Homo sapiens: one gene and its partners. The protein of the gene in region 3 purifies or fractionates together with the protein of the main gene of each other region. This does not show direct contact. Each region holds a gene or a part of one and is shown on either strand. Other genes may lie near its edges. The genes, in order: BPTF, CUL4B, SAP130, CHD5, BRMS1L, LIN9 and SMARCA1.

Region 1 (3,500 bases), on a different chromosome or scaffold from region 3:
ATTATCTGGGTGTGGTGGTGCACACCTGTGATCTCAGCTACTCAGGAGGCTGAGGCAGGAGAATTGCTTGAACCCAGGAGGCGGAGGTCGCAGTGAGCTGAGGTCACGCCACTGCACTCCAGCCTGGGCGACAGAGTGAGACTCCGTGTCAACAAAAAAAAAAAAAAAAAAAAAAATTGTCAGTGACAACTGAAACAAGAGTGATAAAATTTGGATGGGTGTAGTGGCTTATGCCTGTAATCCCAGCACTTTGGGATGCCAAGGTGGGCGGATCACTTGAGGACAAGGAGTTCAAGACCAGCCTAGCCAACATGGTGAAACCCCGCCTCTATTAAAAATACAAAAATTAGCCAGGCATGGTGGCGTGCAACTGTGATCCCTACTCAGGAGGCTGAGGCAGGAGAATCGCTGGAACCTGGGAGTTGGAGGCTGCAGTGAACTGAGATCGTACCACTGCACTCCAGCCTGGGTGACAGAGTGAGACTCCATCTCAAAAAAAAAAAAAAAAAAAGTGGTCAGTGACAACTGAAACAAATGTGATAAAATTTGGGTGAGTGTGGTGGCTCATGCCTGTAATCCCAGCACTTTGGGAGGCTGAGGCAGGCAGATCACTTGAGGCCAGGAGTTCAACACCAGCCCAACAAGGTGAAACCCCATCTCTACTAAAAATACAAAAATTAGCCAGTCATGGTGGTACGAGCCTGTAGTCCCAGCTACTTGGGAGACTGAAGCAGGAGAATTGCTTCAACCTGGGAGGCAGAGTTTGCAGCGAGCTGAGATGGTGCCACTGCACTCCAGCCTGGCTGACAGAGCAAGACTCTGTCACACACATAAAAAAATAAAATGAAAGAAAACTCGTGTATGAAGGATTATCACAATCTATTTGATCATTCCAGAAAGCCCATATCAGTGGTTTCTAACATACTTTGTGTCACAGAACCCTATTAGAAATGGATAAATGCTATGATCCTCTACCAAGGAAAAAAGTATGTATATAAACTTTTGTAATCTATTTCAATGGTTCTTGGACTCCTTGAAGTTTATATAACAGAATAAAAGACTGAAAAAAAGGATCAAAGGCAATCTGTGGCCTTGTTTACTGCTTACAGTAAAAAGGTATCTCTAAGACAACCAGGGCAAGTGGAATATGGACTGAGAATCAGATTATTAATTTGTTAATTACGGTTAATTTGTTGAGTGTGATAATGACATGATGGTTATGGAAAAATGTCTACGTAGAGATACATATTGAACTTCTGGTGAAACATGATTTCTGGGATTTATTTTAAAACACTGCAGGATTAAAAAAAGTGGTCAGTGACAACTAAACAAAGAGTGATAAAATTTGGCTGGGAGCAGTGACTCACACCTGTAATCCCAGCACTTTGGGAGGCCGAGGCAGGCAGATCACTTGAAGTCAGGAGTTCGAGATCAGCCTGGCCAACATGGCAAAACCCCGTCTCTATTAAAAATACAAAAATTAGCTCGGCGTGGTGGCGGGTACTTGTAATCCCAGCTATTTGGGAGGCTGAGGCAAGAGAATTGATTGAACCCGGGAGGTGGAGGTTGCAGTGAGCTGAGACCATGCCACTGCACTCTAGCCTGGGTGACAGAGCAAAACTCCATCTCAAAAAAAAAAAAAAAGTGATAAACTTTGATAATTGTTGAAGCTGAATGAGTTCATTATTCTCTTTGTATTTGTGTAGTTTTAAATTTCCCATAATAATTACAAAAAAAAAAAAAAAATCAAGCCTCCCAAAACAGAACTACTGTCTAGATGAATATTCTTGGGACTTAAAGGTTTTTTTTTTTTTTTTGGAGACAGTGTCTTGCTCTGTCACCCAGGCTGGAGCACAGTGGGTTCATCTCAGCTCACTGCAGCCTTGAACTCCTGGGCTCAAACGATCCTCCCTCATCAGCCTCCTGAGTAACTGGGAATACAGGTGTGTACCAATATGTCTGGCTAATTTTTGCATTTTTTGTAGAGATGGGGATTTGCCATGTTGCCCAGGCTGTTTCTTGAACTCCTGGGCTCAACTGATCCTCCCCTGCCTTGGCATCCCATCACAGGTGTGAGCCATGGCACCTGGACTTAAAGGCATTTTCCTATTCTTTACCTTCTTCACTTGAACCTAAATATCCCAAGGACCTAGCAAGGTATATCCATTTTTTATTTAAATGAATGATTTCTTCCAGAAAGGTCTGGCTGAAGGGAAGAGAGTGCAAAGAAATCATAATTCTGTCGCGAGCAAGATACTGGTGTGAGAAAATAGATATAAAAAATATATCTATTTTTAATTTAAATGAATGATTTCTTCCAGAAAGGTCTGGCTGAAGAAAGAGAAGAGAGTGCAAAGAAACCGTAATCCTGTCAAGAGCAGGATAGTGGTGAGGTAAGAGAAGAATCACAGAAAAGGGCTTGGGACCTGCCAGCGTTCTATCACTCTGTGCATATGTGGTCTTCACTATGTCACCTGGCACCCTCGTGAAATAATCGGCTCATTGAACTTGAGTTTAAAAACACATGATCTTTTAAAAGAGCAGTTCATCTCTATAGAGTTCGGTGATTCTAAATACTAAAGCTCATTAGCCAGTTGTAAAAACTCAATTAATAGCTTATTTATAGGCCAGGCGCAGTGGTCACACCTGTAATCCCAGCACTTTGGGAGGCCGAGGCGGGCAGATCACAAAGTCAAGAGATTGAGACCACCCTGGCCAACATAGTGAAACCCTGTCTCTATAAAAAATACAAAAATTAGCTGGGCATGGTGGTGTGCACTTTTAGTCCCAGCTACTCGGGAGGCTGAGGCAGGAGAACTGCTTGAACCCAGGAGGCGGAGGTTGCAGTGAGGCCAGATACGCCACTGCACTCCAGCCTGGTGACAGAGCAAGACTCCATTTCAAAAAAACAAAAACAACCCCTCCCCCCAAAAAAAACCTCATTATTTTTTTAAATTATACTTTAGTTCTAGGGTACGTGCGCACAACGTGCAGGTTTGTGACATATGTATACATGTGCCATGTTGGTGTGCTGCACCCATTAACTCTACATTTACATTAGGTATATCTCCTAATGCTATCCCCCAACCTCCCCCAACCCCACGACAGGCCCCGGTGTGTGATGTTCCCCATCCTGTGTCCAAATGTTCTCACTGAAAAACCTCATTTATGTGACAGTGTTTTGGAAGCCTCTATCACTTTCTTTCTGGTTTTCTCTTACTTGCAACAATGCTAAGGTTACTAGATACATGACTCCTCAGTGAATTAGTACTGAATTAAGATTTTTTTTTTTAAGAGATTGAGTCTGGTTCTGTCATCCAGGCTCGAGTGCAACAGCACAATTATAGCTTACTGCAGCCTCAAACTCCTGGCCTCAAGCAATCCTCCTGCCTCAGACCCCCAAGTAGCTGGGACCACAGCCATGTGGCACTACACCTGGCTAATTTTTAAAACGTTTTTGTAGAGATGGGGTCTTGCTATGTTGCCCAGGCTGGCCTTGA
Region 2 (3,302 bases), on a different chromosome or scaffold from region 3:
GGTCATCGGTAGTAAAAAAGGAGTCAAATAATATTGAATCAACAGGTTAGTTTATCCACTGGCTACTGCATATGACACCAAATGCTGCAAGGCCAACATTCTATGCAATATAGTTGTACTGGTTTGGATTTTCTTTATCTCTTTCCATGTAGTCCCGGTCAATTAAAGATTCTATTCTCTTCTTAAGATCAGCAGGCTGTAAGAGAAGGCAAATTTTCAATGTAAAGTTCATTATCATTGGCTCAAGCCCATTTAGTTAATACCCCATTAAAAAGACAACAGTTTCGGCTCATGAATTTAATCTCCTTTTTTAAAATTTTTATTTATTTAAATCTCTTTTTTAGAGAAAAGTATCATGAAAATAAACCAGGTTAAAAAATGTTTTATACACGTTGAAGATTCTTTTTTTTTTTTTTTGAGACGGAGTCTCGCTCTGTCACCCAGGCTGGACTGCAGTGGCACCACTTTGGCTCACTGCAACCTCCACCTCCTGGGTTCAAGTGATTCTTCTGCCTCAGCTTCCCGAGTAGCTGGGACTAGACACAAGCCACCACGCCTGGCTAATTTTTGTATTTTTGGTAGAGATGGGGTGTCACCATATTGGCCAGGCTGGTCTTGAACTCCTGACCTCAGGTGATCCACCTGCCTCAGCCTCCCAAAGTGCTGGGATTACAGGGATGAGCCACCGTGCCCAGGTATGTTGAAGATTCTTTAACGCCAAAAGTGTTTTTGATTTTTGATTTTTTTTTGGAGCTTTTAATTTTTTTAATAGACAGGGTCTTGCTATGTCGCCCAGGCTGACCTTAAACTCTTGTTCTGGAGTAATCCCCCCAGCCTCAGCCTCCCAAAGTACTGGAATCCCAGTACTCACAGGTGTGAGCTACCATGCCTGGTCCTGACTTTTTCATTTTGGTATATTTGCATATACATAGTGAGATACCATGGAGATGGGACCCAAGTCTAAACACAAAATTCATCTATGTTTCATACATACCTTACATAGCCTGAAGATAATTTTATACCTTTTGTGCATGAAACAAAGTTTTGACTGCAACCTGTCAAATGAGGTAAAGTGTGGAATTTTCCACCTGTGGCATCATGTTGGCATTCAAAGTTTCCAATTTTAGAGCATTTCAGATTTTGGATTCTCATTAAAGGTGTTCAACCTGTACTATATACTATACATACATTAAACTGTCACATCCTTGTCATATTGTTACGGAATACTTTCTATTACTTTTCTATTTTAAAGAGGTCATGCCAGAAGCAGCTACCCTTCGCGTGGTTAAATACAAAAGACTACATTTATTGTAACTTCACATGAGCACTGTAAGGTAGTTTAAGGACACAGAATACTAGTTTTGTCAAGATAGTTCATGAAGCACACCTTTACTTTGGGCAAGAGTTAGTTGGCTTCATTTTTATAAATTAAGATTTAAAACGTACTGATGAAATCACTATTTAGACCGGGTGTGGTGGCTCATGCCTGTAATCCCAGCACTTTGGGAGGCTAAGATGGGTGGATCACCTGAGGTCAGAAGTTTGAGACCAGACTGGCTAACATGGCAAAACCCCATCTGTACTAAAAATACAAGAATTAGCCAGGTGTGGTGGTGGGCGCCTGTAGTCTCAGCTACCAGGGAGACTGAGGCAGGAGAATTGCTTGAACCCGGGAGGTGGAGGTTGTAGTGAAACGTGATCGCGCCACTGCACTCCAACCTGGGTGACAGAGCAAGAAGACTCCATCTCAAAAAAAAAAAAAATCACTATTTAAAAGAATACTGGACAGGTGCAGTGGCTCATGCCTGTAATCCCAGCACTTTGGGAGGCTGTGGGCAGATCATGAGGTCAGGAGTTCGAGACCAGCCTGACCAATATGGTAAAACCCCGTCTCTACTAAAAACACAAAAATTAGCCAGGCGTGATTGTGCGCACCTGTGGTCCCAGCTACTCGAGAGGCTGAGGCAAAAGAATTGCTTGAACCCGGGAGGCAGACGCTGCAGTGAGCCAAGATCATGCCACTGCACTCCAGCCTGGATGACAGAGCGAGACTCCATCTCAAAAAAAAACTACATGAAATGGCTTGATAAATGAAGTACCTCATAATTTAGATCTTCATATTTCTGGTTTAGTGCATCTAAGTGACTTGGATTTCTGCATCCTGTGATTTAAAAGTAATCAAGAAAGCTTGTAGCTTTATCTTCATGATTGCATTCTAAGCTCCTGGATGACAAAATTCCACTATATATCTTATGTATCTAGTCTGTAAATATAATATAATCTTGTTTGCTAATAGAAAGTTTTTCAGGATAAGTAAAATGACCACTTGTTCAAGAGGGGAAAAGAGGGGAAGTAGTCTGATACAGCAGTGAAAATTTTATCCAGTAATCCCAAGGTTGGGAAATCAGATGACTTCTCTTAATTATGGTGAAAGACCTAGAATATCAGCACAATATTAACTACAGCGATCCCCTAATTTCCCCAGCATCAGTGATCTCTCTGGCTTGAGGTGAAATGACTATTAAGCAGAGCATGAGGGTGAGAGGGTGGTAATGAGGAGTGCGATATTAGGTTTGGAGAAAAGAAAATGCTTACCTTATTAGAACTAAGAGCTACCGAGTGCTTATTATGTACCAGGTCCAGTGCTAAGATTTTTACATTCATGATCTCACTTAAACCTCACAATAATCCTACAAGGTAAGTACTATTATTATCTCAGTTTTACAAAAGAGGAAACAAGATCAGCATGGTGAAGTGATTTATGAAAGTCCAAAGCTCATAAGAACCCTAATAGCTAGCAGTCTATTCAAACTCTATCAATGTTTATCATCCAAGGGTTTGGCTATCTACCTCCTAAAACTTGGAAAAAAGGCCAGTACAACATCACATTAAGTGACTTTATTATTGGTCATTCACAATGGAACGTTTCCATTTAATGACCAATTTCAGTTTACCAGAACTATCACTACACTTTTCAAAAAGATGCTTAATCATGACTAGTTATCTGTATGGTTTTTAACAGATGATCTCTTATATAAGCTAACTAAACAGGAGATTTAACTCAATCCACAATAACTAAATCTGTCAAATACCATGGTATTTCAATAAATACCATGGTATTTCAAGAGGAAAAGAAGTAAATAACCAACCAAGAAGTTCAAAAGAAATATAGTGAATAAACTTGAAAATTTCAAACACTCATTTAGCAGTTAAACTTTCAGGTATCCAGGCTTTTCTGTTATTTTTCCCTTTTGTCACTGCTGCCCACATATGCCAACAAAGTTTTTTTTTTTGGAAATCAT
Region 3 (3,500 bases):
CTATAAAACCTCTTTATTGGGGAATAGATTACATAGAATACCACCACTGGTTTACAAGAAAAGTTCAATAATTTTTTTACAAATATCCTCAGCAACACCAAGGAGCAGAATGGTTGGGTCAAATGGTAAGTATATGTTTAACTTTGCCGAAGTCATTTCCAAAGTGATTGTAGCATTGCCTGTTCCCATTAGCAGTATACAAGCTGCTCCTCTTCCTTACTCATTGCTTGATATACAGCCATTCTAGTGGGTTGTAGTGTGTGTCTCACTGTAGTTTTAATTAGCATTTCCATGATGACTAGTAATGTTGAACATCTTTTTATGTGATCCCAGCCCATTCATATATATCTTCTTTAGTGAAGTGCATGTTTATCTTTTGTCCATTTTAATCAATTAGCTTTACTGAGGTACAATTTACATATAAAATTCACTAATTCTTTGTGTAACATTAGATAAGTGTTCGCAAAAGTATACAGCGGTATAACACAATCATGATACAGATCATTTCCTGTTACTCCAGTGAGTTCATTCACACCCCTTTGCAGTCAATTCCCTCCCCACAACCTCTATTCTCCAGAAACCACTGATCTGCTTTCTGTCACTATGGCATAGTCTTTTCTGGAATTTCACATAACACAATCATACCATCTGTAGTCCTATGTATCTGGATTCTCTCCTTAGTGTAATGTTACTGAGGGTTATCCATAATGTTGTGTATACTGGTAGTCTGGTCCTTTTTATTGCCAAGTAGCATTCCACTGCACGGATGGACACACAACAATTTGCTTATCCTGTCACCATCTGATAGACATTTGGTGAGAACCCTGTTTTGGCTATTATGAATACAGTTTCTACGAACATGTGAATATAAGTCCTTGTATAAACATATATTTTCATTTACCTTTGATAAATACCTATGGAATGAGATTGCTCAGTGGTGTGGTAAGTGTATATTTAATTTTATAAGATATTGCCAAATTGTTTCTTGAAGTGGCTAGCCATTTTGCATTCCCAACAATAAAGTATGAGTTCTATTTGCGCTACAACCATTCCAACACTTGGTATTGTCAGTCTTTGTAATTTCAGTCTTTCTACTGGATGTGCAGTAGTTTCTCACAGTGGTTTTAATGTGCACTGCCCTGAGGATTAATAATGGTGAGCATCTTCTCATGTGCTTCTTTGGCACTTATCTAGCTCTTCTGTACTCAAATATTTTCCCGTCTTAAAAAAAATCAGGTTGTTTGTCTTTTTACTACTGAGTTATAAGTTCTTGTTTTTTTTTTTCCTGGAGACAAGATCTCACTCCGTCACCCAGGCTGGGGTGCATTGGTAAGATCTCAGGTCACTGCAACCTCCGCTTCCCAGGCTCAAGCGATCCTCCCACCTCAGCCTCTCAAGTAGCTGGGACTATAGGCATGAGCCATCACACCTGGCTAATTTTTTTTTTTTTTTGAGACGGAATCTTGCTTTGTTGCCCAGGCTGAAGTGCAGTGGCGCTATCTTGGCTCACTGCAAGCTCTGCCTCCCAAAGTTCAAGTGACTGTCCTGCCTCAGCCTCCCGATTAGCCGGGATTACCGGCACCCACCACCACGCCCAGCTAATTTTTGTATTTTTAGTAGAGACAGGTTTCACCATGTTGGCCAAGCTGGTCTCGAACTCCTGGCCTCAGGTGATCTGCCCACCTCAGCCTTCCAAAATGCTAGGATTACAGGCATGAGCCACTGTACAATTAGCCTGGCCTCGGCTAATTTTTGTATTTGCTGTAGAAACGGGGATTTGCCATGTTGCCCAGGCTTATCTCAAACTCCTGAGCTCAAAGCGATCCACCTGCCTTGGCCTCCCATGGTGCTGGGATAACAGGCATGAGCCTACTGCACACAGCCTTTATTCCCCCATAATGATGTTATGATCTTCCAGCACTATTTTACTGAAAAGACCATCAGGCGCAGTGGCTCATGCCTGTAATCTCAGCACTTTGGGAGGCTGAGGCGGGCAGATCAAGAGGTCAGGAGATCGAGACTATCCTGGCTAACACAGTGAAACACCGTCTCTACTAAAAAATACAAAAAATTAGCCGGGCACGGTGGTGGGCGCCTGTAGTCCCAGCTACTCAGGAGGCTGAGGCAGAATGGTGTGAACCTGGGAGGCAGAGCTTGCAGTGAGCCGAGATCATGCTACTGCACTCCAGCCTGGGAGACAGAGTGAGACTCCGTCTCAGAAAAAAAGAAGACTATCATTTCCCTATTGAATTACTTAGGAACTTTTATCAAAAATCAATTGGCTATATATATCTGGTTCTATTTCTAGATTCTCTACCTGAGTTGTTATGGAAGATAGAGTCTTCTGTTATTCTAGAGAATAATAATATTCTCTAGAATATTCTAGAGAAAATAACATCTAAGTTGAAACTTGAAAAAAGAAGGAATTAGCCAAATAAGTAAGTATATGGAAAGAAACAAGGAAGACTATGGCAAAAGGAAAAGAATGTGCAAAGTCCCAAAGTCGTGAAATTGGGAATTTTTTAATCATTTATTTAGAAATATGAGTAGATACCATCGAGCAGGAGTCATAAGTAGCTTAAAGTCACTTCAAGTCTAAAGAGAACTAAAATAAATTTATAACAAAAACTAAGTTGGCGGCCACCCAAGTGGCTCACACCTGTAATCCCAGAATTTTGGGAGGCCTAGGCGGGAGGATTCCTTGAGGCCAGGAGTTTGAGACAAGCCTGGTCAACATAGCAAGACTCCATCTCCATTGGAAAAAAAAAAAATTAGGTTGGCAGGAGGAAGGCTAAATAGTAAGAAATGAGGCTGGAACATTAGACAAGGGCCATAGCTCATAAGAAAACGCAGAGCAATTAAAGATGCTTCCAGCTCAGCACAGTGACTCACACCTGTGATCCTAACACTTTGGGAGGCTGAGAACGGAGGATTACTTGAGTCCAGGAGTTTGAGACCAGCTTCGGCAACATTGTGAGATCCCCTCTTTACAAAAAAATTTAAAATTAGCTGAACATGTGGCTGGGTGTGGTGGCTCATGCCTGTAATCCCAGCACTTTGGGAGGCCAAGGAGGGTGGATCACTTGAAGTCTGGAGTCCGGAGTCCGAGATCAGCCTGGCCAACATGGTGAAACCCTGTCTCTACTAAAAATGCGAAAAAAAAAAAAAAAATTACCCAGGCATGGTAGCGCATGCCTGTAATCCCAGCTACTCAGAGGCTGAGGCACAAGAATCACTTAAACCCAGGAGGCAGAGACTGCAGTGAGCTGAGATCGCACCACTGCACTCCAGCCTGGGCCACAGAGTGACACTCTGTCTCAAAAAAATTAAAAAAATAAAAAATAAAATAAAATTAGCTGGGGAGCCCAAAAGATCGAGGCTGCAGTGAGCTGTGATTATGCCACTGTACTGCCGCTTGAGTGACAGAGTGAGACCCTATTGCGCAAAAAAAAAAAAAAAAAAGCCTCAGCTACTGGTTTGAGCAATGAGTAGACAGTGGT
Region 4 (3,500 bases), on a different chromosome or scaffold from region 3:
AGTGGCCCTGGAGAGAGAGGCCGATGCCGTGAGACCACCTGCCCTTGGCCAGGACCAGCCACCCCTCCTGGCCGCCTGCCCCGCCTGCCCACCTCCTTGTAGAGGGAGTAAAGGAACACGATGGTCTGCACCGTCTTGCCCAGACCCATCTCATCGGCCAGGATGGTGTCAGTGCCCTGGGCCCAAGAGAAGCGCAGCCAGTTGAGGCCCTCCAGCTGGTACGGGTGCAGTGTGCCGCCTGTGGAGTCGATGTACCATGGCTGCTTGTCGAACTTGACCGTGGGCTGCAGGGGAGGCAGCGGTTCAGACACGCCCCAGATCCTGGGCCACCAGAGTCCACACTACAGGCCTTTGCACATGCAATTCCTTCTGCCTGGAACACTCTTCCCACTCCTGTCTGTCTTCCTAACTCTTCTCCAGTTCTTGGATGGAACACCTCTTCCTCTAGGAAGCCCTCCCTGACTCCCAGCCTGGCTGAAGTGCTCCCACAGTGTCCTCCCATGGCAGCCCTGTACTTCTCCTATCAGGGAAATTTCCCGACTGTTGAATTCTCTGACTCTGAGCCCAGGTTGTCATCACCACCTTGGTCCTGTTCACTGCCTCCTCTTGAGTACCACACAGTGCCTGGGACATGTGGTCACTTACTCACCATTTTTTGGATGAACAACAAAACGAACATCCATCTGGGGCATTCGCAACGCCCCCAGTAACAGGCTCCTCCACTGGATCCAGACATTTACTTTTTTTTTTTTTGAGACAGAGTCTTTGTTGCCCAGGCTGGAGTGCAGTGGCACAATCATGGCTCACTGCAGCCTCAATTTCCTGGGCTCAAGGGATTCTCCTACCTCAGCCTCCCTAGTAGCTGGGACCACAGGCACACCACCGTGCCTGGCTAATTTTTTGTAGAGGTGGGATCTCACTACGTTGCCTCAAACTTCTGGGTTCAAGCGGTCCTCCCACCCCGGCCTCCCACAGTGCTGGGATTACAGGCATGAGCCACCATGCCCGGCCCATTTGTCTCTTGATCCTGCTCCAGGTCACTGGCCCCATGCAGTCCTCCCAATGGACCAGGCCCATCTGCCTTTCCCCAGCATCTGACAGGCGCCTGATAGTCCCAGGCCAGGCCCTCCGTGTTCTGTGGATACCCACCAAGGGCCCCTAGAAGACAGTGTGTCTTCTGAAACAGCTACCCAGGGCTCACTGGCCCTCGTCTCCTCAGGGCCAACCCAGGGCCAGGCGCTAGTGGACACCCAGGGAGCTCTGCTGAGTGAGTCATCCTGGGTCTCCTCCCAGGTGAGAGTGGTGTGTAAGTAGCATGTCAGCTGCAGTGTTATGAGGGGCCTTCCAGCTGTCCTAGCCTACATGGGCATGACACTGTCTGCATAAGCCATGAGGGCCCAAGGAAACATCCTTTTGAGAACACACACCCCCTGCACATTCAAGTCTGAGGTGGGCAGGCCCTGGCAACCCCACCCACTGCTGCCCCACCCTCCCCACTCACGTCCACAATGGGCGTGTCCGGCGGCTTCTCCTGCTTGTCGTCCCTCAGCTTCTTGCCCTTCTTGAGCAGCCTCTTGGGCAGCCTGGTGTCTTCTCCCAGCATCAGCTCCCTGGGAAACGGCATTGGAGGCAGGTGAGCAAGGCTCAGCCCAGGAGCAGGTCCCGGCAGCCTGTGCCTAGCAGCCGGATCCCTGCGACCCACCTGTGGCCCCAGTAGGCCTGCTTGAGGTTGTCGTAGTAGGGGATGTCGATGTCATCGATCTCCCAGGTGCACTGGTCGTAGGGCAGGTCTTTCCACTTGATCAGGTAGTGCACATCCCCCTTCTTGTCAAAGCTGCAACACGGTGAACAGATGTGGGTCGCTCAGAGCAGTGGCCACAGCACAGGTTTGATGAAGGGCACCTCCCAGGATGCAGAGCCATTCACACCCAGGGTCCCCTCGGATGCTGGGCCCAGCCAGGAGGAGGAGACGAGGGCAGAAGCTCCAGGGAGGTGCAGCGGCTTGCCTGGGGCCACACAGCGAATGAGAGGGGGATGTGGCAGAGCTGGAGAGGGACACGGAGGCCAGCTAACAGAGGAGCAATGAGCCAGCCTCCCACATCCTTTGCAGCCTCTGTGGCAGGGATGAATCCCATTTGTCACAGGGTCTGGATTTTCACAGGAGTTCTGGATTTCTAAGTTGGAAAGTTCTCCTTCCTGCCAATGGACTCAGTTTTCTAACTTAAAATACGCAAAGGACTTGTGCAGTGCCCACGTAGGGTGAGGAGTCATCTCTGCAAAGTAGATAAGGATGCAATTCCTGCGTGTGAGGTGGTCTCTTCTGGGGACACAAAGACCCAGTGACCAAGCCCAGCAGCACACAGCTTGATTCTGGCCACTGGGAGGGTCTTTAGGGCCTCCCACCCACCCAGGCTAAGGCAACCAGGCCAGAGGAGTGCTGGAGGGCCGGGCTGGGGCTTGACTACCCCACACAGCAGTGCCGAGGAGGCACACAGACCCGGTGAGCAGCGGCTGCTGCGGGCCTGGGAACATTAAGAGAAAAACCGATCCCGTTACCACGGCAACCGATGTTTGTTTGTTTTCCCATACATAATTGATTGTTTTGCAGATTGGGGGAACAAATCTGGGGGAGATTCACCTGCCCCACTTTGGGGCAGAGAGAAAAACTACCATGTATATTTTTAGCATGTAATTTAGTAAAGGTAGAAAACCATGGGCCAATTCATTGCCGGGCTCAGGTTCCCACAGGAACTGACCCTTGAAGGTCATTCTCAGGGAGGCCTGGGGAGGAAAAGGGGGGTGTCCCATAGTTGAAGGGGGGCAGTTTTTCAAATTCCGCGACCCTCGTACTGAAGACCACCCACAGCCAGCCTCTGGCAAGCTCCTGTCACCCGTGCAGCAGCCTGTTCCCTAAAAGGGCCTCAAAGCTCAGCAGATGGGAACCGGGATTGAAATCTGAACATCTGGCTCAGGCTTTTAACCTCTGCTCTACCCAACAGCTGCCTGAAGCCAGAAGCACTGAGTGTCAGAGGCCACCGATCCTAAGCCCCTCAAAAACAGAGGCCACAGGGTAGCTGGGATGGGGAGCACAAGCTCCAAGCTGCCACCAGGCAGCAGGTACTCTGGGCCCCACCCCAAGGCCCATCTGTCAGCCACCACCAGTTCTCAAGCACCTCAACTCAAGAATCAGCAGGCATTCCCACCACCCACCAAATCAAAACCAAAGCCCACGGGCCTCCTGCCTCTGGCTCTTTGTGCCAGCCTCCTGCAGCCTCTGATTGCTAAGGCATCCCAGGGAACTGCCAGACTGCTCCAGGAAGAGCTGCTGCTGGGGCACTGGGGGGTGCAACAGTAGCTAAGAAAGCAGGTCCTGCAGTCAGAAAGCATGGGGTTCAAATCCCAGCTCCACCCCGTGGCTGTGTGATTCTGGCGACTTAACCTTGCTGTGCCTATTCTCACATCAGTAAAACAGAGGTGAAAGTAAGACGCCTCCCTCCCAG
Region 5 (3,500 bases), on a different chromosome or scaffold from region 3:
CTGCTTGAGATCAAGGCAAAATATATTTGATAGATTATTAGAATATAAATGATATTGGGAACAAATAATGTATAGAAATGGCAAATTGTTAGCCTTTGTTGAGATTTTTAAATTAACATATTAATTTTTGCTTTGTTAAGACTTTATAAAGAACGATTAAGTCAGGTGGATGCAAAACTACAAGAAGTCATAGCTGGAAAAGCACCAGAATACTTGGAACCGCTGGCAACTTTACAGGAAAATATGCAAATTCGTACAAAGGTAGCAGGTAGGAAAGTGAAGAATCTTTTCCATATATAGAATGTAAACTCTTCAGTAGCTTTAAAAGGTGTTTATCAAGTAAGTGTTTTATGTTGATGGGATTACAAGCATATTTACATCGACCAGAATATTTTACTTTTAGTTAGCCCACAGTTACTGTATTTATTGAATACCTCTTGCTTTGCTCTGCTGCTGTAGGGGATTAAAAAAAAAAAAAGCCCTCAAGTTGTTTACAGTGTTGTTGAGAAGATAGTTCCACATTTGGTGAAACAACTGGAAACCATGATACTTTCATTAAGAGAGACTGTTACTATCACATTTTAATTCCCTATTAGATAAAGTTTAAGTGTTCTAGGCATTTTTTTAATACGTAAAAGTGATAGGATTTTTTTTAATTTATAAAAAATTTTAAAAATGTTTGATCAGGATATTATAGAACAGGAAACTTGCCTTGAACTAGATGATTTAATTTTTCCTTTTTACTTTGATAAGTTTGGTTACTCATTTGTGGCTACAAATAAACAAAGATGCACTATATTTGTATGGTTACATTTCAGTCTTATGTTTGTAAATAGGATCCAGCCTCAGTATCATGTCCTGGCACTCATAATCAAGGGATATATATATGATTTTTCATAGTCAAAAACTAAACTTTAATTAGTGGAGATGCTGGTTGTTTTTCTCTTATGTGGCACTAATTGACCCTTATGTACCTGTTAGATAATACCTAAGGCATTGTTGATAATAAGTTCTTTTTACTAAACCCTCCTTTAACCAAATTTTATTTTTGAGTGCTTAATATTATGTAGATGATATGATACTCTTCACTGCTATCTTTACATATTGACAACATACCCTTAGAAGTAAAAATATCCCTAATTTTCTTTGTTCTTTTAGATTACATGGATGATCAGGAAATATTACTTGAGTCGATTATTTACTTTTCTACTCTGGCCTCTTTTATATTTTGATTTTGCAGAGTAGTGTGTGTGAATGTGTTGCTGATGACGTAGTTCCAGATATCTGTCTCTTGCCTTTACTATACAAAGAGAGATAATTACATTTCTAGGGCCAACTATGGCATAAAGCTTAGAATACATATCCAGAGCTCTTTGCGTGCCGTTTTTGTAGTGACATATTTGCATGGCCATGTTACCTATTTTATACTATTGTCCTGTTAGGGTCTAAGTTAAACTATCTTGGGTATCCATCCTCTAGATAAAGTCCTGTCAGGAGCACTCCAGACATAATTGATTTTGTTATATCAGTTTATATACATTTACTCCTCGTGGATTCTTTGGATTGAAAATGATAGTTAAAAAAAAAGTGGTTTTGGTGGGGTATAGTATCTAGCTGTTACTCTGAGTATATGTGATTGATGACACCAGAGTTTATTATCTCCATTTCTATTTTGAGAAACTTGAGAGATTGTTTTTCACAGGAAAAGAGTTTTATTTTCATTTTGATTATTCTGTATCAAACATTTAGGAGTAATCTTTAGAAGAATAGATTAAGAACAAAAACTAGCAGTACAGTTTCTTTCTAGCTCTTATAATTTCTAATCTTTTTGGATATATATTTTAAGTGAGCCTTTTATTTTTAGTCTTTAAAGACAAAGTTAGACTCACTTTTCAATTTTTTCTTGATCCATCTTATTAAATACAGTGAGGACAGAATTCCTGTAGGGAAGTGATAATGGAACTTCTCATTGCTAACATAATCAGAGTAATTGTGTTTGGTTGCAGGAATCTATAGAGAGCTCTGCTTAGAATCTGTAAAGAACAAATATGAATGTGAAATTCAAGCTTCTCGCCAGCATTGTGAGGTACTGTCATTTTGCATAACTTTTAAGCTAATTTCATCTCTTCAAGCCTTTTCTGAGTGTAGTAGTTAAAAAAGTAAACTAAGTAAAACAATATTAAATAGTACTTTAGCTCATCATTTGTGTGTGATTAAAAAAAAAAAAGAATAGAGTTGCATTGGAAGCTGTATTGGAGATAGGACACAAAGAAAGGACCATAGAAAAAAACTGAGATAATTTTAGAAGTTTTGCAGCTGTTACTTTAAAAAGACTTTGCAACGATTATGTCACCTGGCATTACTGAAAATATTAGTATAATTAGTATAATGTGGATTAGATTTGCGAAATATACACTCAATGGTGCAGTTAGGATGTTGGGCTATAGAATTAGTTTCTGTCTGTCTAGACCTATTTCCACATCTTTGGGCAGAATTCTCTATTTATGGGAAAAAAAATAGGTATATTTTTCTGTATATTCTGTTTATTTTGCATTTAACCCATTTATGCTGAAGGTTGCAATTTTTTTGTGTGTGTGAAAAATCAGATCTTGGTGATGACCTTGAGCAGTAGGATATAAATAACTCCCACAAGCTTAACATTCCAGTAATGGAACACTAGGCATAAATGGGTTAAAATATTTATAGCATTTAAAAAACATAGTGCCCAGGCATGGTGGCTCACACCTGTAATCCCAAGAGTTTAGGAGGCTGAGGCGAGAGGATTTCTTGAGCTCAGGAAGTCAAGACCAGTCTGGGCAACATAGTGAGACCCCCCACCTCTACAAAAAATAGAAAAATTAGCTGGGCATGGTGGCAGGTGGCTGTAGTCCTAGCTACTCAGGAGGCTGAGGTGAGGGGATTGCTTGACCTTCGGAGGTTGAGGCTGCAGTGAGCTGTGATTGTGCCACTGTTCTGCAGCCTGGGTAACAGAGTGTCACCCTGTCTCAGAAATAGCAACTACAACAACAACAAACAAAAAAACCCCATAGTGCCCGTTTTGCAGATAACTTTTTATCAAATCTAGACAAGATTATAGATATACAGGTAGAAATAAGAGGACAAGTTCTATAACGATTCTTCTGTCACTTTAATGTGCCGTAAACTAAGAGTAGTTAGGTATAAAAATGATAGAGCTCATTGTTTCATTTTCATAATTACAACTGAGATTGATTATCTTTTTGGCGTTTACTAGCTGCTTGGATATTTTTTCCTAAGAAGTGCCTATTTGTATTTCTTGCCTTTGTGTTGGCTTTTAGTCTTTCCCTCATTGACTATATAAGTTCTTTATATATTCTGGCTATAAATGCTTTGCTGGTTGTATGCTTTGCAAATCTTTTTGCCCAGGTGGTACGATGTTTTCACTCTTTCTGATGACTTGCTGCAAAGAAGTTTTACATTTTAATGTAGTTGAATTTATTATCTTTTTATTTATGGGATGT
Region 6 (3,500 bases), on a different chromosome or scaffold from region 3:
GAAAATGTTATGTAGCTTCTTCTCCAAGGTTATTTAGTCAGGACTCATCAGTTTGGTTATACTAAAGTGCTGTGTCGTTAAGGTCCAACAGAGAAATGCTAGTTCCTGGCAAATGGAAGACTTAAGTATAGATCCGAACCAGGGGTCTAGCAGATAGGGCTGGGGTCCCCTAAGGATCTCTTCCTCTGTGAGATAAAGTCTTGATTCTATCATAAAATACGATTTCTAAAAAAACTCTATATAACACATTTAACAGGCATAAAACACAAATGTATTATGAAATACTACTTACGAGAACTTCATAGTCAGGGATGGTATGGGTTCCAAGCCCTGTCCTATCAAAAGTTACTCTATAAGTAGCATTAAGAGTATCCACAGCATCTATTTGTCCAGTGAACAAACCATCATGAACACCACGTAATCGTGCTGAGAAAAGAACAAAGGCATTATGATGTGTGGGAGATACAAAGAATAGTCAAATATAAAACTGTTCCAAGCATGTAATTTAAATCATAGTACAGTATTTTGTCTATTAGAGTTTCAAAACAAGCACACACTTTATTTTTGGCTTAGAGAAACAACAAAGAATTTTTGAAACAAAAACAAAAACTATAAATGATGATCCCTAATTTCATATTTGAATAAAATTATATTACTCCCAAATTAAGAGAAAAATATTTTAAATCATTTAACTGCAAAAAAAACAACAAAAGAACTTTGGTCATTATACTCATGAGTGAAGCACCAGGAGTAGTTCAATTTAAAAAAAAAGACAAAGATGTTGTGTAGAAAATAATTAAAGAAGTTAATACTGCAGGCCTGATGCTGCTATACTTAGGAAAACCTCCTTGCAAGGTTGGCCTTTGTCTGGTATCTGGGAACTTGGATTTCGGAAGTGTTCCCACTGTTCCCTAATTAATAATGGTGGTTTTACTGTGTCTAGATTGTGCAAACGATGTGGTTAATGCTGGACACCTGCTTTCCCTCTGGAAGACTGGAATTTTAGTATGTACTAGGCAAAAGATGCCTACATACTCAGCCCCCAGTAGAACTCTGGTCACTGAGTCTCTAATGAGCTTCCCTGGTAGACAACACTTATAAGCATTGTGACAACTTGTTTCTGGGAGAATTAAAAGTCTTGCATGACTCTATTGGGAGAGGACTTTTGAAAACTTGCACGTGGTTTCCTCTGGACTTTGCCCCAAGCACCTTATTCTTTTGCCAATTTTGTTTTGTGTCCTTCACTGTAACAAATCTTACCCATGAGTACATGTGCTGAGTATTCTGAGTCTTTCTAGTGAATCACCAAAACTAGTAGTCTTGGAACTGATGACACAGATGAACTGTGTCACTATTATTTAAGTCCAGCCTAAAATAACATCAGAGAAATCCAAACAAACATCCAGCATGAGTAAAAAATTTAAGAACAACAGCATTGATGGCTGTAAACTGGGCAAAGTAATACATTTTATACTAACCAAAAAGTATAATACACAACATTTTAATAGAACACAGAAATACACAATGCAAGACTGTTTAAAATAAAAGGATCAATTGATAAAAACACAACTGTAGAGGACTAAAATCTCTCTCAGTTTCTGACAGATCCTTTAAGGGAAAAGTAAACATGGATACAGAAGATGTAAATAATGAAGCTGAGTAAACAAATATAAGCATAGAAAAGGACTACTAGTTATGGTGGCATGAAGAGGCTGGTAATTCCTCTCCACAAAAAACAAGTACAAACCTGAATGAGATTGTGAAAAACAACCATTCCAGGGTACTGGAAATGGATCAAATGTAGAAAACAAGAAACGTTTATTGTTGAAGAAGTGCTAGAGCTTCAGGTTAGGGCAGGGGGACTCAGTGGCCTCTTTGCACGAGGTTATTCACACACCCACTACTACCACCAACGTGGTCGATGAGAATGGTTTTATTAGTTCAGGGTTGGTCACGAAAACCAGCCAGAATTTTGACTGGTCATGAAAGACAGCCAGAAATTTAACAGGGAGATCATGGAAACTAGAGAGCCATAAAAGGGCGGAAATAAGCTCTCTACCATCCCTGGCTAACTGGGTTACTATGCAAATGGAGGGGGAAGATCCAATAGTCTGGCAAAAAGTAAAAGCTAAGGATGACTTGAAAACTAGCAGCAACTTTGTATTTACATTCCCCAACTCACATATAAATCAATGTGAGGCTTTTCCCGATCAAGATGTTTGAGCATAACCTCTGTTCAAATCATTAGGTGACCACTAAATTATTATTATTATTTTGAGATGGGAGTCTCGCTCCGTTGCCCAGGATGGAATGCAGTGGCACGATCTCGCTCACTGCAACCTCCACCTCCCGGGTTCAAGTGATTCTCCTGCCTCAGCCTCCTGAGTAGCTGGGATTACAAGTGCCCGCCACCACACCCGGCTAATTTTTTTTTGTATTTTTAGTAGAGACAGGGTGTCACATGCTGGCCAGGCTGGTCACAAACTCCTGACATCAGGTGATCCGCCCGCCTCAGACTCCCAAAGTGTTGGGATTACAGGCGTGAGCCACCGCACCCAGCCCTGACCACTAAATTATATGCAGACACAGGGGTAACTCTTTGGAAATCAAGTTTAATAATAATAATAAATATAAGAATAAAAAATGAAGCAGAGACATCAGTATTTGCATAGCCAAGTTATTAAAGCAAATCCAACAACTCTCCAAAAAATTAGAATACATAGTTGCTACAATATATTATCTGAAATATCAAGTTTTCCACCAAAAATTACTAGACATGTAAAGAAGTAGGAAAGCATGGCTCTTAAGAAAAGTACAGTAAGAAATTGAGAGAGATATTTAGCAAAGACTTAAAAAAGCAGCTGTTATAAATATGTTCAAAGAATTAAAGTAGGCTGGGCGTGGTGGCTCACTTTGGGAGGCCCAAGAGGGTGGATCGCTGGAGCTCAGGAGTTCAAGACCAGTCTGTGCAACATGGTGAAACCCCATCTCTACAAAAACATACAAAAAAATTAGCCAGGCATGGTGGCATGTGCCTGTAGTCCCTGGAGGCTGAGGTGGGAGGATTGCTTGAGCCCAAGAGGTAGAGAGGTAGAGACTGCAGTGAGCCAGGATAGTACCACTGCACTCCAGCCTGGAAGACAGAGCAAGACTCTGTCTCAAAAAAAAAAAAAAAAAAAAAAAAAAGGTTTGTGTATGTATGTACTTTTTTCCTATTCTCTTCATTTCTGTTTTTTGAAAAATTTATTTGATAAATAAAATCTTTTTTATTTCTTTTCCATTTACTCCTTTAGATAACCTACAGAAAATCCCAGATAACCTGGAATTATCGTTCATTTTACAAAGATTACTTTTAGGATAGTTCAGATTCTTATAATTTCTTAACAAATCAATGATTTTAATATCTTTTTTAACACTCTCATTTCTCCAGGGGTAAACAACTGTGGCTTAAGTATGACGTCTCAAACAACTTTCTATATACTGTAGCTAAAGTATCATGT
Region 7 (3,500 bases), on a different chromosome or scaffold from region 3:
GAAAACTTGCTAGACATATTTACCTATTTTTAATAAGATTTCTGGATAGCTAAACACGAAGAGGTTTCGCCCAGGGAGGGCACCAAAGCGCTGCGCCCTCTTGGCCCATACTTTGCCCTACACGCTTCATCTGTATCCTTTACAATACCCTTTATAATAAACCAGTAAGTGTAAAAAAAATCCATATGCTTCAGCAGCTAAACTGATTCTGGTCGAGCTCAACAACACAGGTGAGTAAGAGAGGGAGAGGATTTGAGGACCAGTTAACAGATTGATTAAAGCAATCTTTTCAGCTCTACGCCCGCTAGCCCCAAGTTAATGGGACCCACAGGAACTCTCTGGAATAGGGTGGAACTCTGAGGGTGTTTGAGCATCTAAATGGGCCTGACAGGAACTCTCTACTTTAAGGACGACCTAGAAAGAAAGGCACGAATTCAATCCACTGAATGTGAATCTCAGAACTGAACCAGAAGACCAAATTCCAGAGGTGGGAAGGTGGGAAACTAATTTTGTCAATGCTTATCCAAGAGCCACCCTTGTTTTATCAGAGCTTTATTTGCCTCTTTTAGCTAGGTGATAGAGACAATAGCAGTCAGTTTGTTAGGATAAATCTTATAACCTTTCTTATAACCTTTTCATAGAAATACAATTATAGTTTATACTCTCATCTATGTCTTATTCATAAAAGTTTAAAACATCTCTGAACAAAGGTACAATTAAATTGATGCTAAATAAATGAATAACGTTAAAATACAACACCATGTTTCAAATTATATACAAACCTGAATACTCCATGACCTCCTCAGGGGATTTGCCCTCTACCTCTCGAGCTATGTTATCAATGTCATCTCTTCCATATTTCTCATTAGCTTTAATAAACTGGTTAAAATCTCGTTTAGTCCAGTTTGTGAAACCCTGTGAACAAAAAGTTAAGCATTATCAATAGAGGTTAAATTAATAAATCCATTTATTGCCCTATTTACTTCTATACAATGATACATTAAAAAACACTTTAAAAGACTTAAAATGTTTCTCCTTATAAAATTGCACATATTTTATGTTGGAATCAAAAGTTGAGTGAGAGTTGTTATAGAAATAACTGCTTTTCTATTACAAAGAGAATGTTGATACATAGTTCGAAGATCTGTAGTTTTTAATTTCATATTTTATAGATGCCTACATTAAAATACAAATGCATGAAAATAAAAATGCTAATATAAATGCTGAAGTCGTGATATTCTAGTACTTCAATGATTTTTTTCACAGATCTGTTCCTACATAAATTAAAAGAGAGAAATGTGGATGCACTAAATCAAAAGAACACTGAGGAATAACCAAAAGATAATGCAAAAAAAAATTGTAGCTCTTTACATCATTCTGAACTAGTGTGAATAAATAATTTCTGTTCTAAATTATGTTCATAAATAGAACTTCTACAAGCAGAACGTTATTGGAGCCACTCAATTTCTTTACTAAAACATAAAACACTTTAGCCAGTGTTTTAAATTCCCTTGGCATTATTAGCATGTCTGTGAAGTCACAAGACCAAGAATTTGTCTTCCACTCCTCGAGCCCCAACTCACATAAATGTGATACTCCAGACACTGCAAAACTCTATCCCTGGCTTTTAGTTGATAAAGATTTCAGATGACCCCACATTTTGTTCCTACGTACTGCCATGGTTTTTTGAAAAAGATTAATTATTTAAGGCAGCAGAGAAGGACAAAAATGAATTCATATACTAGGAGAAGCAGAAAACTGATTATATTTCTAATTACAAACTAAAATATTATCTCAGTTGAGACTGTATATTCATGTTATACCGTACATTCACAATATACTCCAAGTCATGTAGCATTCTAAAGCCATAACTTTACTTTTACATTCAGGAAATACATTTTGAAAATAGAACATGAATATTTAAATGTTTTATTTTATTCTGTGGTAAGTTCTAATATTCAGCCATCTGCCATTATATTTTCAAACTAAACTTTATTACTTCCAGGCATTTGGCTCAAAAACTTATGAATGTAATTTGTGAAAATCCATACAATAAAATTACGTTATAGCAAAAAAAACCTATATAATAAATAATATACAAATATAAAAACTATCTTTCAATAATTAACGTGGAGAATTACCTACTACTATGCATCGCACATTGTTCAAAATTTGTTGAATAAATAAATCTTGCTGGCAACCCTCTATACTAAAGTAATGTCCTACGGTACACATTTTGTTTATTTTGCAAGCCTTCTATGCTGAAATTTTTATCTTCTATAGTTTATTTTAGAAGTAGAACACTCGTAAAACTCATGATAGCAATAATGACTTAAAAGCATTAATATTTTGTTCAAATGGAAACCTTCCTAATTTAATAATTGTTATACAATGATCACCTTAAATAATAATAATAATAATAAAAGCTTCAGAAATCTCTCATCATTGTATGAAAATTATAAAAAAAGATAAAAAGAATTTTGAAAATTATGAAATTATTCCATTAATAAAAAATTAGTAGAATATAACTTCAGGAGACAATTCACATCTATAAACAAAAGAAATTTAAATTTTCAAGAATATGTTAATAACAGGCTTGGCACGGTGACTCACACCTGTAGTATCAGTTGCACTTTGGGAGGCCGAGGTGGGTGGATCACTTGAGGTCAGGAGTTTGAGACCAGCCTGGCCAACATGGCAAAACCCCATCTCTACTAAAAACACAAAAATTAGCCAGGCACGGTGGTGGGTGCCTGTAATCCCAGCTACTCGGGAGGCTTGGGCAGGAGAATCACTTGAACCTGGGAGGTGGAGGATACAGTGAGCTCAGATCGCACCACTGCACTCCGGCCTGGGTGACAGAGCGAGACTGTCTCAAAAAACAAAAAAGAATATGTTAATAACTACTGTCTATCAGAATTCAAATGTGGATTCACTGACCTTATTATAATTGGCAAAATGTATGTCAAATTGCTAATACTTGACACTTATATTTTGCATATACATACTATCCACTATTTCCAAAAGGGCATATTCTATAAGATCAATTTTTAAAAATAAGGAGATTTGGTCTAAACATGTTTACAAAATAGCCCTGAGTTTTGTTGGTGTGTCACACTAGGATACTAGGCCCATACAATAAAAAGTGTGATCTATATTTTCTTTTTTTCTATTGATTGACTGTAAGTATTACAGCCATTGAAAATATTTTACTTGTGTGAGAAGTTTTTCCTTTTCTTCAGTCTCTTCTGGTGTAAGAGGTTCAGCTCCATCAATCTTTTTTTGCTCTTCTCTTTGAGCCAGAGCTGGATTTGGGATATCAGGATTCCTTGGAACCTATAAATCAAGAGATAAACTAAGAGTAAACTGATGAGAAAAATTAATTACTAAGGCTGTATATACACATATCAATCTTTAGAGTTATTTCAAGAGTAAACAATATAAAATCATAGCCAGAATGACACACGGTCCTCTCCACATTTCTGCTACCATGATCCTAT

The links.
Region 1: the proteins of SAP130 (region 3) and BPTF purify together in Homo sapiens (affinity purification with mass spectrometry, with the first as the bait; one large-scale study listed by BioGRID). This does not show direct contact.
Region 2: the proteins of SAP130 (region 3) and CUL4B purify together in Homo sapiens (affinity purification with western blotting; 2 studies listed by BioGRID, with this or other methods). This does not show direct contact.
Region 4: the proteins of SAP130 (region 3) and CHD5 purify together in Homo sapiens (affinity purification with mass spectrometry, with the first as the bait; one large-scale study listed by BioGRID). This does not show direct contact.
Region 5: the proteins of SAP130 (region 3) and BRMS1L purify together in Homo sapiens (affinity purification with mass spectrometry, with the first as the bait; one large-scale study listed by BioGRID). This does not show direct contact.
Region 6: the proteins of SAP130 (region 3) and LIN9 purify together in Homo sapiens (affinity purification with mass spectrometry, with the first as the bait; one large-scale study listed by BioGRID). This does not show direct contact.
Region 7: the proteins of SAP130 (region 3) and SMARCA1 purify together in Homo sapiens (affinity purification with mass spectrometry, with the first as the bait; one large-scale study listed by BioGRID). This does not show direct contact.

The regions. Positions count from the first base shown.
Region 1 is NC_000017.11:67,905,503-67,909,002, reverse strand, and holds part of BPTF (nucleosome-remodeling factor subunit BPTF), read right to left. Parts: intron 1-3,500. UniProt on the Homo sapiens protein: Regulatory subunit of the ATP-dependent NURF-1 and NURF-5 ISWI chromatin remodeling complexes, which form ordered nucleosome arrays on chromatin and facilitate access to DNA during DNA-templated processes such as DNA replication, transcription, and repair.
Region 2 is NC_000023.11:120,526,661-120,529,962, forward strand, and holds part of CUL4B (cullin-4B), read right to left. Parts: intron 197-3,302; coding exon 101-196; 3' UTR 1-100.
Region 3 is NC_000002.12:128,021,560-128,025,059, forward strand, and holds part of SAP130 (histone deacetylase complex subunit SAP130), read right to left. Parts: intron 1-3,500. UniProt on the Homo sapiens protein: Acts as a transcriptional repressor. May function in the assembly and/or enzymatic activity of the mSin3A corepressor complex or in mediating interactions between the complex and other regulatory complexes.
Region 4 is NC_000001.11:6,142,322-6,145,821, forward strand, and holds part of CHD5 (chromodomain-helicase-DNA-binding protein 5), read right to left. Parts: intron 1,835-3,500; coding exon 1,703-1,834; intron 1,611-1,702; coding exon 1,502-1,610; intron 285-1,501; coding exon 93-284; intron 8-92; coding exon 1-7. UniProt on the Homo sapiens protein: ATP-dependent chromatin-remodeling factor that binds DNA through histones and regulates gene transcription. May specifically recognize and bind trimethylated 'Lys-27' (H3K27me3) and non-methylated 'Lys-4' of histone H3.
Region 5 is NC_000014.9:35,832,838-35,836,337, forward strand, and holds part of BRMS1L (breast cancer metastasis-suppressor 1-like protein), read left to right. Parts: intron 1-140; coding exon 141-268; intron 269-2,006; coding exon 2,007-2,086; intron 2,087-3,500. UniProt on the Homo sapiens protein: Involved in the histone deacetylase (HDAC1)-dependent transcriptional repression activity. When overexpressed in lung cancer cell line that lacks p53/TP53 expression, inhibits cell growth.
Region 6 is NC_000001.11:226,267,665-226,271,164, forward strand, and holds part of LIN9 (protein lin-9 homolog), read right to left. Parts: intron 427-3,500; coding exon 293-426; intron 1-292. UniProt on the Homo sapiens protein: Acts as a tumor suppressor. Inhibits DNA synthesis. Its ability to inhibit oncogenic transformation is mediated through its association with RB1. Plays a role in the expression of genes required for the G1/S transition.
Region 7 is NC_000023.11:129,467,991-129,471,490, forward strand, and holds part of SMARCA1 (SWI/SNF-related matrix-associated actin-dependent regulator of chromatin subfamily A member 1), read right to left. Parts: intron 3,337-3,500; coding exon 3,214-3,336; intron 916-3,213; coding exon 783-915; intron 1-782.